Linked DNA regions of Homo sapiens. The protein of the gene in region 3 purifies or fractionates together with the protein of the main gene of each other region. This does not show direct contact. Each region holds a gene or a part of one and is shown on either strand. Other genes may lie near its edges. The genes, in order: STAU1, ILF2 and DHX9.

Region 1 (3,745 bases), on a different chromosome or scaffold from region 3:
GAATTTTTAAAAACCCAGTATGTTTTAGTAAAGTTGCTGTTCTAAAAATCCCACCTGTCACCAGGATAACCGAAACTGCTCCCTCTACACTCCAACTGTATTTTTAGTTTTTACCTCAACAAGTAGCAATGCAATTTACACTTGGTAAGCACGGATTCCTGAAACGCCAAAATCAACCGGGAACCTGATTTAACTCCACCACGCTCTTAACAATGAAAGCTACAAGCAGAAGAGAAGTGTGACCTTAAAAACTTCCACACAGCCGAAGAACAGTGGCAGAACAGACTGAAGCACGTATCTTCGCGGAACAGAAGAAAACTTCCACACAAGCAATACTGCAACACGGAGGCGGGGCAAGGGCTTAAAAGGAAAGTCAGCCAACAGGGAGGGGTGAATATAAGCAAAGCTTCCGTGAAAAAAAACTTATCGAGGTGTAGAGCAAGACAAGACAGACAAATTTTTCCATCTCCGTACACCCCCCTTCAGAGCCCAACACACAGCAAGTGCTCTAGATAGGTTTGCTCAACTCAAGGGAAGCTTCTGCCAGCAACTTTCCCAGAAATGGAATGACAAGAAGAAGCTGGATGATGGCGGGGCGGGGAGAAATGGACAGGTTGCTCATCCTGCGGGAGATGGTGAATATCCTGCAGTTGCCTAAGCGGAGATGGAAAGAAACAGCATCCATCGTTTACAGACTGTCAACTACAGTGTCCCAATTAAGCGTACGCCCCTTTCAGATGTTAACAACTGAAAACAATGCCCTGGCTCTGGACATGGGCACGCGGAACACTGCAGCCTCTAAGAAACCCAAACGGATAGGTAGGTCAACTTCTATCCACTCTGCCCATTAAATTATACCTTCATATCACGCTAATAAATTATGCAGACGGTTTACTGGGACACGCTGTGGGTCTGGCACTCTGATAAGCGCTTTACACGCCCCATTTCACTGAACCTTAAGAGGCAGGGACGGTATTAGCAGCCCCTTTTCCAACCAAGACACAAAGACTTTTTAAGTGTCTTGCCTAACGGGGCAGAGCCGGGTTCGGCACCCGTTTTGGACACCTGGGCCGTGCTCTTAACCACTAAGCTACAGACCTGGGCCGGCGACACTGAGAGGCTCCAGCCCTCGGGGACCTGAAGCAGGGACCCCCCCCCCCCCCCGCCTGCGCCCCAGCCCCGGGAATAACTTCGGCATCCCCGCGCGCGCCATGCGGGACGAGGAAAGGCGGCCGCAGCACCTGTTTGTGGCACCGGTGAGGGCTGGAGGGGATGGGGGCGCCCGGGGCCAGGCCTCAGGGCGCCCCGAGGCGAGGGAACGCAAGAGGACCCGCCTCCTCCGGGAAGGCCCCGCGGGCTAGAGAGAGGCCCGGGAGAAGGCGGAGGGGTGCGCGGGCCCGCCGAGGCCTAGGCCCCACCCGCCGCCCACCTCCCCACCGCGGCGGCGCCCGCGAGGGCCCCACCAGGCCCGGCCCGGCCCGGCCGCCTCACCTGGCTGCTGCTCCGAGCTCGTCCCCCGGCCGGCGGTCCTGGGCGGTGGCGGCGAGGAGGGGAAGGAAGAAGGAAAAAAGGGAGAGGAAGAAGGGACGAAGGGAGGGAAGAGGCGGAGTGGCCGTGGAGGAGGCGGGCGCCGCCGGGCCGGGGGGGGGAGGCGGTCAAAGGAAGCGGGAGCCGAGAGAGACGCGGCAGCCGCCGGCGCAAACGCTGAAGAGCCGCTCAGGCGCCCGCAGCCCGGCAGGAAGTGACGGGGGAGGGGCAGGCGCCCGCCCCCGGCCCCCGCCCGCCTCCAGGCCCGGCCCCGGCCCCACCCCCACCCACGGTCCGAACCACAAGTTCCGGCTGGCACTGCGGCGGAGCCTGCGCTCGCAAGGCACGCCGGGGGCCCAGCGGGAGGAGCGCCCTGTCCCGCCTGGACCGCAGCGGCCCGTCCTGAGTCCCGGGGCCTGCCGGGAGTTGTAGTTCTGGTGGGAGTTTCGCGCTGCCTGCTGGACTCGAAGCGGGTCTGGGAGAACCCAGCCTACCTTCTTTCCTCCTCCACTTCCTTTTTCCTTCCTTGCTGTCGCTTCTTCCTCTTGTCCTGCCTCTGGCCTTCCTTTCTCTCCTTCCTGCAGTTGTTTCTTCCTCCATCTGTAAATGTTCATTAAATGCTTGCCATATGCAAGGCATTGCTCCAAGAGCTAAGAATGTAGTGGTGAACTGACAAAAATCCCTGCCCTCGTGGAGCTTACATTCTTGTGTAAGTAAAATACACAATAAATAAAATTGAAAAATGTGTAGTGAGATAAAAGACAATGGCCCGGGCGCGTTGGCTCAGGCCTCTAATCCCGGCACTTTGGGAGGCCGAGGCGGGCGGATCACTAGGTCAAGAGATCGAGACCATCCTGGCTACCACGGTGAAACCCCCGTCTCTACTGAAAATACAAAAAATTAGCCGGGCGTGGTGGCGGGCGCCTGTAGGTAAACAGCTACTCGGGAGGCTGAGGCAGGAGAATCGCTTGAACCCGGGAGGCGGAGATTGCAGTGAGCTGAGATCGCGCCGCTGCACTCCAGCCTTGGCGACAAAGAGACACTGGTCTCAAAAAAAAAAAAAAAAAAAAAAAAAAAAAAAAAAAAAAAGACGAGAAGTGCCAGATTACTATTTATTTCACCCAGACCTAGATAAACTAAGTGGTTTTTAGCAGCTGTATTGTATGGGAGGTTGGAGAGAGGGTGGCCAGTAAAGAATCTTGGCCAGGCGCAGTGGCTCACGCCTGTAATCCCGGCACTTTGGGAGGCCGAGGTGGGCGGATCACCTGAGGTCAGGAGTTCGAGACCAGCCTGACTAACATGGTGAAACCCCGTCTCTACTAGCCGGATGCAGTGGTGGGCGCCTGTAATCACAGCTACTTGGGAGGCTGAGGCAGGAGAATCTCTTGAACCCGGGAGACGGAGGTTGCAGTGAGCCGAGATCACGCCATTGCACTCCAACCTGGGCAACAGAGTGAGACTCTGTCTCAAAAAAAAAAAAAAAAAAAAAAAGAATCTTGAACTTCTGCACACTCAGCGAAAATTATGCTCGCGTTGTGAGAGGTCCAAGAAACTGAGAATGAATGAAGGAACTGCAGGTGCACAGAGCTTCTCTCTCCCGCTCACTCTGGGACTGCCGCCCCACTATTTAAAAATAATTCTCTCTTTCTTAAATGTCTCTCAATCTAATAATTGCTCAATCTCTCTTGCCAACGGAATATAAATTCAAAATACGAGCTGCTGTGTCTGAAGAGGCCCCTCCAAACAAGGCTTTGGAGCCTTAGCGAAGCCTGGGAGGACACTTGCCTCCTTACATTGCTTCTTGTGAAGTGCAATGACACTGAATTTCAGAACACCAAAAATAGTCAAAGGACTTTCACCGTCCCTTTAGTGCCCATCCAAGACAGTAGTAAGCAACATTCAGATATTGTCCAGCCCTCTGCTAAAAGTGATCTTTTCTTTCTAACTTCCAAGCAGTGTGGATCCCATACCTCCTTGGGTAAAGGAGCAGATGCAGAGAGGTCTCCCTAAACCCAAAGCTGCGCACAATCAGACAATCTCGTCAAAGGTGATTTTGCTATCACCCATAGGGACAAAAGTGGTGGGTCTATGACTTCCAGTCTCAATTTTCTTCCCTCTTTCCTCCTTCCGCATCTTTTTTGTTTTTTTCTTGAGACAGGGTCTCGCTCTGTCACCTAACTAGAGTGCAGTGGCATGAGCACAGCTAACTGCAGCCTCA
Region 2 (3,745 bases), about 29 Mb from region 3:
AAAATCCAGACACGAGGTCACAGGCAAAATAGTTCTGTCAGAGGAAGTATGGGGGTATCCTGCTATTCACTGCAGTTAAAAAGTTTATCTTAATCCAAATGGTTAGAGAGGGACTCACGTGGACTGAGAAGCATTTTCCTCGAACCAGCGGGCATGTCGGATGGCTGCTAAGGCACTCTGCAATACTTTGATATCCACTAAAAAGACAAGCATGATATGCCAGGATGAAACATTTTCATTAAACAAGCTACTCATTACCACTGCTACAGTCTTAAAAACTTGGAAGGAGGGCAGGATAGACGGAGTCTCGCTCTGTTGTCCAGGCTGGATTGCGTACAGTGGCGTGATCTCAGCTCACTGCAACCTCCGCCTCCCGGGTTCGAGCAATTCTCCTGCCTCAGCCTCCTGAGTAGCTGGGATTACAGGTAACCGCCATCATGCCCCACTAATTTTTTATTTTAGTAGAGACGGGGTTTCATCATGTTGGCCAGGATGGTCTCCAACTCCTGACCTCAGGTGATCTGCCTGCCTCAGCCTCCCAAAGTGCTGGGATTACAGGCGTGAGCCACCGCACCCGACCAACTCTGCAATTCTTTAAGCCACCCTGTGTTTCTCATATCAGCAAATCACTTGTCTAAAAATCACTAGAAACATGCAAGATCTGTTTTCTTCAAAAGCCTATCCCCCTCCATAAATATTTTCTCAGTCCTTTTTAAGTCCTCCAAATGCTTTCTTGGTCACCCCATCTGAAAATTCCACTAGCAAGCTGATAAACTATTTCCAAATTACAGAGGGAGAGAGCAAAGTTCAGAATAAACCTAAGTTCTTCAATTCCCAGGAAGCTGCATGTGGAATAGCAACAAGCTAAGTAAACTAAACAGCAACAATACCATGTTTTGAATATCCCCTAAATTTTCCAGCAATGGAAAAAAAAGAACTAACAATGGAGTTCTGGATCCAGTTTTCGAAGATTGGGTGGCACTGTTGTAATGAGAATCTTCACTGTAGCATCAGAAGAACTGATTTCAAAGCCAGTTTCGTTGGTCAGCATGGTTAAAACTGAAAAAACAGAATAAACAAAAACTATAACTCACATTTCCATTAGATGATCAAAGTTAAATCCAGGGTGGGGGGGAACAGGTGGATTTTTTAAAACAGCACAAAGTCCAGAATGAGAATTTAGAATACAGAGCTTTAGAAGGGAGATCAAACAGATCTCCCTTGAACACCTTGAACACCTGAAGCCCCTGCCAAAAACTCCCACAACATAAAACTCTGCATTTACTCTTCCATCTGGTCTGATCTGATTTTGTTGAAAGTGTACTTACAATTACAAGACCTGGTTCCTATGGCTACTAAATACAGAATCAGCAACAAATGCAAACCTTCAGAAGGATCCTGTGCTCTTAGGCTTTCCACGACTTTGTTCCCCAGGGCAGCAACAGCTTCCACTAATTGACAGAAAATGACATAATGTTATAATAATTTATTTGCCTAGACTTTCTATGTATCTCTAAGCTACTTTGCACTCTCATTTCTGTCCCATATCCAAGGCTGAAGCAAGGGTAAGTAATAGAATATATACTTTTATAAGAGAAAGCCAAGGCCTGGGCAGAAAAATTGGAAGACTCAGGGAACAGGACCCCTCCTGTACTCATATCCTCTTTCTACAGCAGGGTTTTTCAGGTCAGTGGCAGTTAATAACATTTTGGGCTAGACAAATCTTTGGGGTGATGGGGATGTAGGATGTTTAACAGCATCCACGGCCTCTATCCTTTTTCTTTTTTTGAGAAAGGGTCTCACTCTTGTCACCCAGGCTGCAGTGCAGTGGCACAATCACAGCTCACTGCAGCCTCAGCCTCCCGGGCTCAAGCAATCCTCTCACCTCAGGCTGCTGCTTTTTTTTTCTTTTTTTCTTATTTTTGAGACAGGGCCTCACTCTGTCACCCAAGCTGAAGTGCACTGGCACGATCTCTGCTAACTCCAACCTCTGCCTCCCAGGTTCAAGCAACTCTCCTGCCTCAGCCTCCCAAGTAGTGGGGATTACAGACGCCCACCACCACGCCTGGCTAATTTTTATATTTTTGGTAGAGACTGGGTTTTGCCACGTTGGCCAGGCTGGTCTTGAACTCCAGGCCTTGGCCTCCCTAAGTGTTGGGATTACAGGCGTGAGCCACTGCACCCGGCCCCACCTCAGGCTTCTGAGTAGCTGGGACCAAAGCATGCACCACCATGCCCAGCTAATTTTTTTCTTTTTGTAGGTACAGGATCTCTCTATGTTATACAGGCTGGTCAAACTCCTGGGGTCAAGTGATCCTCTTGCCTCAGCCTCCCAAAGTGCTGGGAATACAGCCACCACACCTGGCTTCTACCCTTTTTTGATGCCAGTAGCACCCCCTTGTTTTAACAATCAAAAGTACCGCCAGATACTGCCAGATATCCCCTGGGTGGCAAAATTACCTCCAGTTGAGAAACATGGCCGTACAGTAACCTGCTATACATTCTTTCAGACACACACACTCCAGCGTTTGTCCCTTATCACTCATTAAAAAACATTTGTCAGGCAGGGTGCAGTGGCTCACGCCTGTAATCCCAACACTTTGGGAGGCCAAGGCGGGCGGATCACCTGAGGTCAGGAGTTTGAGACCAGACTAGCTAACATGGTGAAACCCCGTCTCTACTAAAAATAGAAAAATTAGCCTGGCATGGTGGCACTTGCCTGTAATCCCAGCTACTTGGGAGGCCAAGGCAGGAAAACAGCTAGAACCCAGGAGGTGGAGGTTGCAGTGAACCGAGATCACGCCATTACACTCCAGCCAGGGCAACAGAGTGAGATCCGTCTCAAAAACAAAAACTAGAAACATTTGTCTTACAAACATCCTTTCTCACAAGAAATTTGAGCTTTCAAGATCCGTAAGGGCTGGGCACAGTGGCTCACGCCTGTAATCCCAGCACTTTGGGAGGCTGAGGTGGGCAGATTGCTTGAGCTCAGGAGTTTGAGACCAGCCCGAGCAACACGGTGAAACCCTGTATCTACAAAAAATACAAAAATTAGCTGGGTGTGGTAGCACACATCTGTAGTCCCAGCTACTCGGGAGGCTAAGGCGGGAAGATCACTTGCTGTAGTGGAGGTCAAGGCTGCAGTGAGCTACAATGGTACCACTGCACTCCAGCCTGGCCAACGGAGGGAGAATTTGTCTCAAAACAAAAAAAGATACCTAAACCCCTAATCCAAGTGCTATGTTCTGTTCCCATGACCAGAAACAGGCACACTCACACGTTGGCAGAATCTTGAGTATCACCACCAGGTCAGCCACATTGTGTCCTGTAGTCATTGTCCCCTTTTTATAGGATCCCACCTGTCGAACTTCTTCAATTTGCTGTTGGAAAAAGGATTTCGGGGAAAAACAATTTAGAAGAAAAAAAGGTGCCTAGGTCCTCCCAGAACTGTTACAACACAGCTACCTGTTACCCAAATTAAGAAGTAGCAGAGGTGAAATCACCCCCAAAACCACCACATGAAAGCCTGATACATCACAGCTAGCATAACAATGATACAAGTCTTGTCCCCAAGATCAGTACTACAAAGAAATTCCACTGTACTTTCTCATTTTAGGCTTGGCTTTGGATAATAGACAACTGAAAATTAAAAGTCAAGAGCCAAGGCAATTTCCACACTACCAAAGCTGCCCTTTCCTAAAACTAAATCATCAAAAACTCACCACTTCAAATGTCCCTGGAGCCA
Region 3 (3,745 bases):
GTAGCTAGGATTACAGGCACACGCCACCTTGCCCGGCTAATTTTTGTATTTTTAGTACAGACAGGGTTTTGCCATGTTGGCCAGGCTGGTCTCAAATTCCTGACCTCAGGTGATCCACCTGCCTTGGCCTCCCAAAGTGCTGGGATTACAGGCATGAACCACCACACCTGGTCTTGTTGAGGATTCTTGCATCTATGTTCATCAGGGATACTGGCCTATAGATTTTTTTTCTTGTGTCCATATCTAGTTTTGGTATCAGGGTAATGCTGCCCTCACAGGATGAGTTTGAGAACTGGTATGAGTTCTTCTTTAACTGTTCAGTAGAATTCAGCAGTGAAGCCATCAGGGCCTGGACTTTTCTTTGATGGGAGACTCTATATTACTGATTTAATCTCATTACTCATAGTTGGTCTTTTCAGGTTTTCTATTTCTTCTTGGTCCAATTTTGGTAAGTTGTATCTGTTCAGGAATTTATCCATTTCCATTTGGTTTCCAATTTGTTGGCATATAGTTGTTCATAATAGTCTCTAATGATCCTTTGTATTTCTGTGGTATCGGTTTAATGTCTTCTAGGCCCCTGCTGCTTTCAACACCCTGAAGGGTACAAAAAAAAAAAAATTAAGGTCTTTCCTTCAATGATTTTATTCTTAATTAAGGAGAACAATCACATGAAGAAAATAATAAGTAAATGATAAACTATGTTGTTCTGATTTTAAGAATGACAGTTTTAAAGGGAGTGATCACTATCAGCTAGAAGGATTAAGAAAAACATAAGGAAAGAGGTGAAAAATAAAGATCCATAGATATAATGAGCCCAGATAATTGATTAGTCTGGATTCCCTGGAACAATCCCAGCTGGAAATGTTTTGTATCATTACCTTCATGGGACGCACTGGAGTTTCAAAATTTAACAGTGACTAGTATAATAATTAAGGACACAATTATTCCAAAGACTTGGAACACAAAATTACTCCAAAGACTTGGAACACAAAAGGTTATCCAATTTAAACAAAAGCAACCTTGCAGATTTTATTCCTACCTTAAAGTAGTTTGCTGAGCACTTACAGTAATGTTCCAGGCACGGCAAGGAGCGACCTGCGTTAGCCAGGCAGAATGCCCGCCTTCACTGAGCTTATTTCTTTCATGGTTTTTTTTTTTTTTTTTGAGACGGAGTCTCGCTCTCTCGCCCAGAAAATGGCGTGATCTCGGCCCACTGCAACCTCCGCCTCCGCCCCCGACCCCGGGGTTCAAGCGATTCTCCTGCCTCAGCCTCCCGAGTAGCTGGGATTGCAGGAGCCCGCCCAGCCACCCAAGCAGCTGGGATTGCAGGCGCCCGCCCCCATGCCCGGCTAATTTTTGTATTTTTTTTTTTTTTTTTAGTAGAAACGGGGTTTCACCACGCTGGCCAGGCTGGTCTCAAACTCCTGACCCCAAGTGATTCGCCCACCTCGGCCTCCCAAAGTGCTGGGATTACAGTCACCACGCCCGGCCAGTTTATTTCTTTCAAGAGACACTGGCGTTCAGACTATCTGAATCAATCCGGTAACTACGCCCACTGAACACCTACTACATGCCAGGTATTGAACTAAGCCGCCCTTCATATGCCATCTCATGTAATTATCTCAACAACCCTACCAAGTTAGCAGCAAGGTTTCCAGTTCTGCCTTCGAAGGGAACCTCCTCTCACCGGAGATCCCTATGACAGACCCTGCGAAATATTTTGCTGCATCAGAATGCTACAGGCCGTCAACTCCCTAACATGCGCAAAAGCGGGCAGCCGATTATCCAGGGTAGTGGATTATCCAGGAGAGTGGATTATCCAGAGTAGCAGGTCTGGCGCGATGCCCGCCCGGCTCAGCCCATCTCCCTAGCAACGAAACCCTTCCGCGCCGCGAGGTTGCTGAGCCCCGCCCCCTCCATTGGCGCGCCCTCGCCATCCCCCGCCCTGGCACGCGCTCTGCGCATGCGTACGCTCGCTGGCCCCGCCCCCTAGCGCCGCGGTCGGAGCCATTTCGCCGATTCCTCCATGCGAGTTGCTGTGCGTTTCTCTGTTGTCTCGGTAGAAGGCCAGAGTCACACACGGTCCTAAGAGCTGGGCACCAGGAAGCGAAGGCTGGTAAGGGAGAGACGTTCCGGCTACCATGCGGGGCGGCGGGGTCGCGGGCGGGCGCCGTGGACCATGGCTCCGCAGCCGGCTTTGTTGCGAAGCGCGGGCGGCGGCGGCGGCTGGGGGTGGGGGAAGGGACGAGCCGCCCGCGGGTCCCCGGATTGCGGGTTGCGTGCGCGCCTCGCCGCGATGCGCTTGCGCCGTCCGGGCAGCCTGTGGCCCCCTCCCCTCTCCTCCGCCCAGCGTTTCCCGCTGCTGCCTCTAGCAGGCAAAGCGCGCTTCCTCCTCTGGCCTGCGTACGCCGGGGCACCGCGGCGGCTGAGGGAAGGGGGTGCTTCGCCTGTGGTGGTTGCCGCCGGGGCGCCACTGGCCTAGGGCTCTTCATTCATTCAAGCCACGAATAACTGGCGCCGTCGTGCAGGCCTTGTGGGTAGAGGAAAAAAAATTGAAGAATGTAAAGGGAGAGCGCCTTTGGCTAGTATAGCGAGGTAAGGCGTCTCGAAGGAGGGAGGCTTTGAGCTGATAACCTCGGCCAACGCGAAGGAAAAGCAGAGCCTGCAGAAGCGGAAGGGATTAGTTATCGCTTAAGGGCAGAAACTGGGCGGGAGCTGAAAGCAGGCCATGTGACTGGAGTGTGGCGAGAAGGCCTTCAAAGGAGAATGGGTTTTAGGGTGGCAAGAGTGGAAACAAAAACCGTGTAGGACAATATTTCACTAGCCCGGGTGTGCAGTAGTGGTGGCAGGAGAGATGGGGAGAAACGAATGGATAGGGGACGTATTTTGAAGCAGAAATGCGTAGTGGTGGAAGGTAGTAGATCTGGAGTCAGGCTACGTTTTCTGGAATTCTTGCGCCTTTTTTTTTTTTTTTTTTTTTGCAAGAGTCTCGCTCTGTCGCCAGACTGGAGTGCAGTGGCGCGATGGCGGCTCACAGCAACGTCGGTCTCCCGGGTTCAAGTGATTCTCCTGCCTCAGCCTCCGGAGTAGCTGGGACTACAGGCGCGCGCCACCACGCCCAGCTAATTTTTGTATTTTTAGTAGAGACGGGGTTTCATCATGTTGGCCAGGATGGTCTCGATCTCTCGACCTCGTGATCCGCCTGCCTTGGCCTACCAAAGTGCTGGGATTACAGGCGTGAGCCTCCGCGCCCGCCCGAATTCTTGCTCTTATAATTAGGAGCTCTGTCTTCCTGAAGCAAGATATTCTTTGTCTCAGTTTCCCCTTCTCTAAAGGGATAGTGATCTTACCTGTACAAGGTTACTAAGGATTAAGTAAAATAGTTCCATTTAGATGATCTATTATGGATATTGTTTGACACACATTAAGGGTTCTACAAGGGATAGCTATGGAGAATCTTAAGGGAGTGGACGACTCTCAACTTGTGCCAGGAGTAACTTGGTGGATGTCGTACCGTTTATGGAAACCGAAATGTAGGGGTAGGGTGTTGGAACAGATTTGAGGGGAAATTTAAAATTCTGTTTTGACTGAGATGCCAAGTTAGCATGCAAATGGGTGAGTTAGTGCCACAGTTGGATGAACTTAATTTTGGACTTTAAAGAGAAACGACGGGCGGGCGCGGTGGCTGACGCCTGTAATCCAGCACTTCGGGAGGTTGAGGCGGGCCGATCAAGAGGTCAGGAGA

The links.
Region 1: the proteins of DHX9 (region 3) and STAU1 purify together in Homo sapiens (affinity purification with mass spectrometry; 6 studies listed by BioGRID and IntAct, with this or other methods). This does not show direct contact.
Region 2: the proteins of DHX9 (region 3) and ILF2 fractionate together in Homo sapiens (co-fractionation; 5 studies listed by BioGRID and IntAct, with this or other methods). This does not show direct contact.

What each region holds. Positions count from the first base shown.
Region 1 is NC_000020.11:49,186,625-49,190,369, forward strand, and holds the start of STAU1 (double-stranded RNA-binding protein Staufen homolog 1), read right to left. Parts: upstream 1,711-3,745; 5' UTR 1,492-1,710; intron 338-1,491; exon of another isoform or gene 115-337; intron 1-114. UniProt on the Homo sapiens protein: Binds double-stranded RNA (regardless of the sequence) and tubulin.
Region 2 is NC_000001.11:153,664,278-153,668,022, forward strand, and holds part of ILF2 (interleukin enhancer-binding factor 2), read right to left. Parts: coding exon 3,723-3,745; intron 3,381-3,722; coding exon 3,278-3,380; intron 1,452-3,277; coding exon 1,386-1,451; intron 1,060-1,385; coding exon 943-1,059; intron 198-942; coding exon 119-197; intron 1-118. UniProt on the Homo sapiens protein: Chromatin-interacting protein that forms a stable heterodimer with interleukin enhancer-binding factor 3/ILF3 and plays a role in several biological processes including transcription, innate immunity or cell growth.
Region 3 is NC_000001.11:182,837,341-182,841,085, forward strand, and holds the start of DHX9 (ATP-dependent RNA helicase A), read left to right. Parts: upstream 1-2,006; 5' UTR 2,007-2,116; exon of another isoform or gene 2,117-2,251; intron 2,252-3,745. UniProt on the Homo sapiens protein: Multifunctional ATP-dependent nucleic acid helicase that unwinds DNA and RNA in a 3' to 5' direction and that plays important roles in many processes, such as DNA replication, transcriptional activation, post-transcriptional RNA regulation, mRNA translation and RNA-mediated gene silencing.